3 separate regions of the Homo sapiens genome follow, and regions 2 and 3 are each linked to region 1. The links come from fine-mapping of genetic effects on gene expression. A gene starts in region 1. Each other region holds a variant in brackets. All regions are shown on one strand. Distances are from middle to middle. Region 1 holds the start of ERGIC1 (endoplasmic reticulum-golgi intermediate compartment 1). Region 2 overlaps ERGIC1 (endoplasmic reticulum-golgi intermediate compartment 1). Region 3 overlaps ERGIC1 (endoplasmic reticulum-golgi intermediate compartment 1).

The links. PIP is the estimated chance that this variant, and not a neighbour inherited with it, causes the effect.
Region 2: its variant is the best candidate, but not a certain one, in a credible set for the expression of ERGIC1 in esophagus mucosa (GTEx, PIP 0.55).
Region 3: its variant is the best candidate, but not a certain one, in a credible set for the expression of ERGIC1 in naive CD4 T cells (Schmiedel 2018, PIP 0.52).

Annotation. Positions count from the first base shown.
Region 1 is chr5:172,832,754-172,835,505 of GRCh38, forward strand. ERGIC1 (endoplasmic reticulum-golgi intermediate compartment 1) reads left to right here and starts at 1,498. Exons shown (of 10, transcript NM_001031711.3): 1 at 1,498-1,680. The coding sequence starts at 1,661. RefSeq lists silencers at 1,351-1,750, 2,121-2,170, 2,181-2,260 and enhancers at 2,244-2,752, 2,731-2,752.
Region 2 is chr5:172,858,732-172,861,483 of GRCh38, forward strand. The region is part of intron 1 of ERGIC1 (endoplasmic reticulum-golgi intermediate compartment 1); the gene reads left to right. Among named protein-coding and RNA genes, the nearest start is that of ERGIC1, 26 kb to the left of the region's middle. RefSeq lists an enhancer at 437-1,437. The variant AG/A (reference allele first, on the strand shown) is at 1,422.
Region 3 is chr5:172,943,635-172,946,386 of GRCh38, forward strand. All of the region lies in intron 9 of ERGIC1 (endoplasmic reticulum-golgi intermediate compartment 1), which reads left to right. Among named protein-coding and RNA genes, the nearest start is that of RPL26L1-AS1, 14 kb to the right of the region's middle. The variant A/G (reference allele first, on the strand shown) is at 1,215.

The sequences.
Region 1 (2,752 bases):
CAATGATAGTCAACCCTGTCTTGCATTTACTCTGTGCCAGGCATTTGCTGACCTTGGATATCATCCCAAATGCACACTTGATTCAGTAGGTCTGGCCTGGGGACAAGAGTCTGTCCTGTGATGGCCATGTGGCTGGTCTGTGGACCACAGTTTGAGGAGGGAGGATTCGAGGTCAAAGATCCATCATTGCATGTTTCCTCCCACACAGGGCCAACGAATGGCTGTTTGGAAGCAGTGGCTGCTCAAGATCCCTTAACTCTCCCTGCTGTCCCTAGGTTTCCAGTTCAGGCTGAGATTTCCTTTTCTCCCCCAACAGTGTCAGACCACTGACACTGAATGAATGAATGAATGAATGAGTGAATGAATGAAAAGGGAACGCAGAGGTCAGGTCCCGGCATATGCTCTAGGGGAAGGCTTTGGTTCACCACGTCACCCTACCCCAGACCCCGTGCTAGTGTTGTCCCTTCTGAATCCTCCCGGAGGAACCAGCACTGCTGTTCCCCTCTATTTACACAGGGGGAAACTGTCCATTGACTCTGCTTTTGGAACCCGAGCCCTCACCATTCTCCCCTGGGTTTTTTGAAGCCCTGTCCCACCACAACCTTGGAGAAAGGGCCAGTGACAGAACCTCGGGGAAGTTCAGAGTGAGTTTCCCCTACTCAGGTCTTGTGTGACCTCAACTACCATCTCCTCTAATCCAGCAGTCACGGAGGCAGCTGCTCTGTATTCCTGAGGAGGAAACTGAGGCTCTAAGAAGGAGACAATCGGCACAGTCCACGTTGGCCAAGTCACAGTGCAGGTCCCATCTGCCTCTGCCACAACCCTGCATGTTCTCGATGGACCTGGTTCAGAGCAGATGCTCTGTGAATGCCCACTGGAGTGAACGACAGGGGCAGATGGAAGCAGGGACAGCCACTGCCAGCCTCAATAGTTTCAGGTGCCTGGCACTGTGCTAAGCCAGTCTCCTGTTTCTCAGCTGATCCCCAGGAAAACCCCCTCAAGTAGGTGTCATCGTCCTCTTTGTGCAGATATGCAAAAGGGGCGGGGCGGGGGGGGGGCGCTCTGAGAAGCCCAGTGGCTTTCCCAGAGAGACACGGCAGGGGCAGAGGTGAGTCCACCTTAACAGCCTAGGATGGCCGACCTCTTCCCTTCCCCCACAGTATTAGGCCCTCACTCAGAGCTAGACGCTGTGCACGGCCAAAGTCTGTATCACCCCGCCCCCCGCCCCCAACTCAATCACAGTTCAGTGAAACTGTTTACAAATGCAAAAAACTGGGCTCGGAGAAGCAGAGAATTTGTCCGAGGGCATCCAAAGAGATGGAGAAGGAAATCTAAGTGGGAGGCTTGAAGGAATGAGTACTGGAGTCTTTGGGGGACTCCCTTCCCTTCCGACAGCCTCGACTCTCCGCCCCTTCCCTGCCTGCCCGCGGGCCCCTTTAACCGGGTGGCGGAAGGGGCGGCCGGGCGGGCGGCGCCCAATGGGCTGCGCGGAGCGTCACTTCCCGGCAGCGGGAGGCGAGTGGCGAGTGGCGAGTGGCGAGTGTCAGGGGGGCGGCCGGCGGGGGCGGGGCGGCCGGAGGAGGCGTTGGCAGCGGGCTCGGACCCACGCGGCGCCGCGGCCCGCCTGGCCTGCAGCGCTCCCACCCCCGGCGGCGGCACGATGCCCTTTGACTTCAGGAGGTGAGTGTGGCGACCCCGGCCAGTCGGGAGTTCCCTCAGCGGGCAGAGGGAGCGCCCCGGCACGCCGCGGACCCCTCCCGCCCTGCATGCAAAAGCGGCTCCCCGCCCTGTGCATGCCTCCGCAGGCCCCTAGGGACCCCAGGCGAGCCCCCCCCCTGCCGCACACGAAGCCAGCCAGAGCCGCGGAGGCCCCCTCGTGCAGCGGGAGACAAATCCACCCACCTTCCCTCCGCCGAGCCCCCTCCCCAGCCTGCCCGGATACCTTGCATTCCCCTCCCCCACACTAGGAAACATTTCCTCCCTCCTCCCAGATGGGAACAGCCCATAACACCCCAGCATCCCTCTCCTCCCTCTACTGAGCCTCCTTGGTGGACCCCACCTCAGCTGACAGGTGGGGCAGGGCACCTGGAATGAGTCCGGAGGGGCCTGGGGCCCCATGCAGCCTGCCGGCAGCTGGAGGGTTTTAAGTTTCTATAGCCTGAGGCTCCCCCAGGCCGGGCAGATCGGGAGGCCTGCCCCCGCCCCTCCCTCCCTCAGCCCCAGCCCTGTCCGCTGGGTATGGGGGCACCATGGGAAGGGGAGGAGGCGCCTTGGGCAGGACTCTGCAGAAGGGCCACCGGGGTCTGGCCTTGGCTTTCTGCAGTCACCACAATGGGTCCTTTGTGGGGTCCAGCTGCCTCATGGTCTAGGTTGCATGGGGCATTCTGGAAGCCTGCGGGGGAAGAGATCTCCACCAGAGGTTCCCTTGAGGTGTGGAGCCCCAGGGGATGTCCTGGCCTGAGGCAGCCACACTTGGTGTCTGGCTGGGAAAAGAGCAGGGCTTTAATGCAGGGAGGAGCTGGATTAGAATCCTGGCTCTGCCCTTTCTACTGAACAGCTCGGTATATTCTAGAAGTTAGGGGCAAAGGCTCTGGGTTCAGAACTCCCTGTCGCCGCTCGGCTGGCTGACCTCAGCAAGTCTCCGAGCGCCCTCAGTTTCACCACCTGCAAATTGGGGCTAAAAATAAGGTCTCCGCTTGTGACGACTGAGTGCGTGAAACACCCTTAGCAGAGTCTGGCATGATTTAGAGCT
Region 2 (2,752 bases), 26 kb after region 1:
CCCCCCGCTGGCATGGGTGGGGGTCCGCTGTTGTCCACAGAAAGAAAACAGGGCTGGGAGCTTGTGAGGGCCCTGCCCAAGATTCCAAGGCCCCTGCCAGCCAGATGTTTGGGGCCAAAGTCCATGCTTCCCTGCCCTGTGGGTAACACGGGGGAGATTACTGTTTGAAGTACTTTGGACAGTCACACCAGGTCAAAAGGTCTGTGTGGTCAAAAGCTACAAGGCCTGTGGCTGGGGGAGCTGTGCTGAGGACGTGATTTTGAGGCTTTCTTAGCCCAGACTTACCTTCATAGCTTCCTGGGATCTCCCAGGTCTGGGTCGTCATCGGCGCCCTTACCGGGGAGGGCTCTGCTCCCCTAAATGCCCCTGTGCACCTGCCCCAGCCCCTTCCCTCCTCCTGGTGCTTGGGTCATGTCGTTCCCTGTGCATGCCAGTCCCCTTACGTGCACATTTTTCCTCTATGATTTTTCCTGTTTTGATGAGACACTGCTCTTGGCCGTGCTGGTTCCCAAGAGGGGACCAGGCCCCGGCCTGGCCAGCTGGTCATTCAGGAACTTTGCTTCTAGGCCCAGCCCCACACCCAGCCACATTCCACTAGGGCCAGAACCTTTGAGCTCCGTGTGAATGGGGCATGTCCCACCCACCCCCAACTCCCATGGCCGCCTCCTTATCACCCTTCCCAGCTGACGGAAAAGGCCATATTCCATCCTGGAATTAGCTTTCCCCCATTTCTGTTTGCTTCCAGACTGAAGGGTGGGAAAAAAAAATGTCCTGAAGGTCACAGTGCCGTCCCAAGCCTTTGAAGTGTGGCTGCTCTCATTGGCTCCACTTAGCAGGATGAAACTGGGGCTCAGAGAGCTGCCGCAGGTGCCTGGTGCTGCTGGTCACTTCTTTGCCACCTCTGAGGGAATCACCTTAAAGGGGCCCCTGGAGCCCTCCGTAGCCCTCACACCTCATGTGCTGGGCCTGGGCTGGATTGCAGCCCTTGCTGCTATCCTCCGCAGGTGCCCTTGGACAGGGGACAGCCTGCCCAGCTGTACACAGTGGCCTTGGCAAGACCACAGCATGGCCCATAGGTGGTGGCTTCAGGATTTGGAAGCCCGGTTTCTCTAACTCCAAACTCCACAGTCAGTACTTTGGGGTTCTGGATTGTTTGTCGGCTGGGTTAGCTCTGTTCTATTTTTCCAACTGTTTCTTGCCTTTAAGCTGTGCTTTGCCTACAGGCCTTTTCTTAATTATTCAGCTCTGCCAGAGGTGCTTCTGTAGAAAGTACTTGTCCTGAGTAATTTCAAGCTTTTAATCTTACCTTTGAAGAAATATTTAACCATCCCATGCTCCTATATGTTTGTTCATTTCTTATTCATTCTTTCACCGAACAGCATTGATTCAGTGCCAGGGAGGGGCAGGGACAGAGGTGAACA[AG/A]ACATGTCTCCAGCCTCAGGTAGCTCAGGTGTGTGAGGCAGTGCGCTCAAGTGGGCTCATCAGTTCCCTGACGGGGAACTAGCAGAGGAGGGCAGGAGGGCGTGGAGAGGTATGGCAACCTTGAAGGACTTTGGTGATGGTGATGATCATAGCCAGCCCTGAATAGGGTTCTCTTTATGCCTGCACCATTCTGCCCCCTCACATCTGTTAACATGCTTCATCCCCACAACCAGTCATTAGGAACAACTTACACATTGGGAAGCCAAGGCACAGAGAAGTTATTTAACCTGCCCAGCGTTGCCTGAGCCAGGGCAGAGCTGGGGTTTGAACCCAGGCCTCCTGGCTCCTGCATCTGCCCCCCTCACCACTGCACCTCACTGCATGCACGGGAGCTCTTTGGATGCAGGGATGGGAGCGGTGTGTGCAAGCCTCAGAGCTGTGACCGTGAAAGAAACAGACTTCTCTGAGGCTTTGCTGCAGAATCTGGGCCAGCAGGTGTCTGGGAGGAAGCCACCCTTGGGCTGGGGCCAAGCATGGGTCCTGGGGTCAGGACAAGGAGAGGGACTGGTGCTTGAGTCCTTTTGGAGCTGCAGATCCATGGTGGGGCTTCTGAATGATCTTGTGTGAGGAAGGAGTCCAGGGTGTTAGCCACGCCTGTGTTTCTTTGTGAGCACAAAAACATATTCCATAGCCAGAGTTCCACAGTGTTTGGAGCTCTGCCTGAGAACCTAGGCTGGGACTGTGTGGGGAGGAAGGGCCGGCGAGAGCGGATGTAGGCTGAGCCAGCCTCGGCTGGAGACCGGCCCTGGCACTGACTGCCTGGGGTCACTCTGGGTGAAACTCATCCACCCTCCTGGGCACTCTGCGCTCTGCTTCAAATCCACCGCCGAAAACAAGCTGAGTCCTGCCCCAGCCTGCAGGGCCTGTGGGATGTGTCCTCCATCCGCCTCGCTGACCTCGTCCCATGCCACCTGCCCCTCCCTGCGTGCCAGCCGCAGTGGCCACCGCTGCTGCTGACACAGGCCAGCCACACACCCACCTCAGAGTCTTGGCCAAGCACTGGCCATTCCCTCTGCTCAGAATGCTCTTCCCAGGCACTTGGCGTAGTGGCTCCCTCCCTTCCCTCGGGTCTCTGCCCTGACCTCACCCAGCCTGCAGTGCCCTCTGTCCGGCTCTGTCAGACCCACGTGTTCTCTTTCATAGCTCCTCCCACCCTCTGGAACAGTCCCATCTCCCTTTGGCTTGTTTATTATCTGTCCCCTCCATGGGAACCTCGGTTCCTCAGAGGCGCAGGCTTTGCCTGTCTTGTTCATGCCTGTTGCCCCAGTGC
Region 3 (2,752 bases), 110 kb after region 1:
TACAGATGGGGCAACTGAGGCTCAGAGAGGTAAACTGGCTTTCCCAGCCAGGGCCACAGAGCTGGGATTGGACCGCAGGAGTGTTTACTCCAAAGCCCACAATCTCGCCTCCCACGGCGGTGTGTATGGTGCTTCTCCATTGCACGCTATGGGAGAGTAATGGGGAGGGGAGTAATGATGCACTGGGAAGGCGTTCGTGCTGGTGGAAAAACAGGCATTTAGTTCCCGCTCCAGTGCGGCTGGAACACATCCTTCTCATATTATAAGGAATTAAGAACCATAATGAAAATGTAAGGGAAACACACACGCACCCCTTTTAAAGGTAGACAAGCTGACTTCATTCTAGTCACAGTGGAAGGCCAAGAAGCTGACGGGACCCCTGGGAGGAAGTTGCTGGTGGGAACAGAGGGGCATTATCGGATGACGTCTGATGAATGCCACTTCCTGCACTGCCCTCAGACTCACTGGGGCCCAGGTATTGAATTGTCCTTGTTTTTGTTTCTGGAGCTGTGGCTGCTGCCCAGAGCAGTGGTGCATGCACTGGCCGAGGTGGCCCTCCCTGGCTCAGTGACCCTGCTCCCTCATCCCCGACGGGGAAGATCCCACCCTAGGTTGTCTCTGAGCCTTGAGGCCTGGTTGGGAGATACAAGAGCGTGGCAGTGGCAAGGGACCAAGCCACTCTCAGTCAATGCCACCACAGTCCTAGGGGGTGAGGATTAGTCTTCCTTTTTTTTTTTTTCTGAGACGGAGTTTCACTCTTGTTGCCCAGGCTGGTGTGCAGTGGCACGATCTTGGCTCACTGCAACCTCCACCTTCTGAGTTCAAGCAATTCTCCTGCCTCAGCCTCCTGAGTAGCTAGGATTACAGGCACCTGCCACCACGCTCAGCTAATTTTTGTATTTTTAGTAGAGACAGGGTTTCGCCTTGTTGGCCAGGCTGGTCTCGAACTCCCCACCTCAGGTGATCCACCCACCTCGGCCTCCCAAAGTGCTGGGATTACAGGCGTGAGCCGCCGCACCCGGCCAGTCTTCCCATTTTTAAAAGCCAGAAAACTGAGGCACTGGGAGCTAGGGTGGCACAAGAGCACATGGATGAGAGGAGTCCAAGCCAATTCTGCCAGCCTCCAAAGCCCAGGCCCTCTATGGCATCGCTTTCCAGGTGCAGGGTCTCCAGGCACAGCAACTTAGTGGAGAGGGGCACCTGCTGCCTGCCCC[A/G]TCCAGGGTCTCCCCCTCCAGGCCCACCTTTTCATCAGCACTGCCTTCCCCACGCCCCCGGCTGACACCCCTGAGCGAGTCACCTTTGCCGCTGCCTTGGGTGTGGAACCCTGTGCCTTTCCTGAGTAGTCATTCATTCCCTCACTCTGGAACCCACCCATTGGCTCCTCATTCTTTCTCTCACTCCTTTATTTATTCAACAAACACGTCTTGTGCACCTCCCATGTGGTCAGTTGTGTCTGCTATCTTCTCTCCCTTGGGCATTCAGGAAAATGAGAGTTTTCCCAATAGGCTTGAGGTGGTGAGATTCAGGGAGCTCCCTCACTGGCCAAAGGATGGAACCCACCTCTGGCCTAAGGTGCTTTGCCCCACAAGGATGTTCTTCATCACAAACACATCTTGGCAACTGCCTGAGGGAACAGGACACCCTGTCTGGGCCTCAGCTACCTGTTCTGTTGAATGGGTTGCTGTGTAACTTCAGAGGGCCCTTAGAGTGCGTGGGCCCCCAGCGGCCACAAAGAATCTGCCTGCGGTGCTGGGACACTCTTGCGGTCCTGTTCCTGTATGACTCGTCTTGCCTTCTGCTAAAAGTGCCAGAGAGAGAATGGAAGTTGAGACCCAAAGGCGTGCTCTGGGGAATAAGTAATATTTTACTGATTTTTCTGGTTAAAGTGGGTCTCAGGTTGAGACAATCCCATTTCTTGGCCATAAGGTTAGAGCCTTCCAGTGAACTGAAAGATTAAGATCAGGTTTCATTTACTGAGCATCTACTAGGTGCTAGGTGCTCCAGATGTATTTTCAGTAGAGCCGCAGGGGTTTTGTCGTTTTATTTTTATTTTTATGTATTTATTTTGGCAACAGAGTCTTGCTCTGTGACCTCGCCTGGAGTGCAGTGGCTGAATCTCGACTCACTGCAACCTCCACTTCCCAGGTTCAAGCAATTCTCATGCATCAGCCTCCCGAGTAGCTGGGATTACAGGCACCTGCCACCATGCCCAGCTAATTTTCGTATTTTCAGTAAAAACAGGGTTTCACCAAGTGACCAGGTTGGTCGCAATCTCCTGAGTTCACGTGATCCTCCTACCTTGGCCTCCCAAAGTGCAGGGGTTGCAGGCATGAGCCACTGCACCCGGCTGGCTTTCCTGTTTTATAGATGAAGAAACTGAGGCCCAGAAAGGCTCTCCCACGGCTAGAATTAGTAAGTGATGCCACGATGCAGCCTCCAAAGGCTGGGTGCTCTCTGCTGCCATGGCAGGAAAGCCGGGTGGACTCCCCAGCCCTCACCTCATGCCACCCTCACCATGTCCAGCAGGGAGGTGCACACCTCCCAGCCCCAGCTTTGTCCTGGACTCCCCTGGAGAGGCCCAGCTCTCCTCGCTCCTCTGTGTGAACAGCAACAGGCTGTGGGAACTAAGTGTCACGACTGCAATTTGCTTTCTTTTCAGTTTCATTCATTAGTGTTCCTCCCAGGCCCCATCCCCACAGCCCAGGGAAATGCCAATCAGCGTCTTCCCTCCTGCCAGCGGCACCCCTGCCCT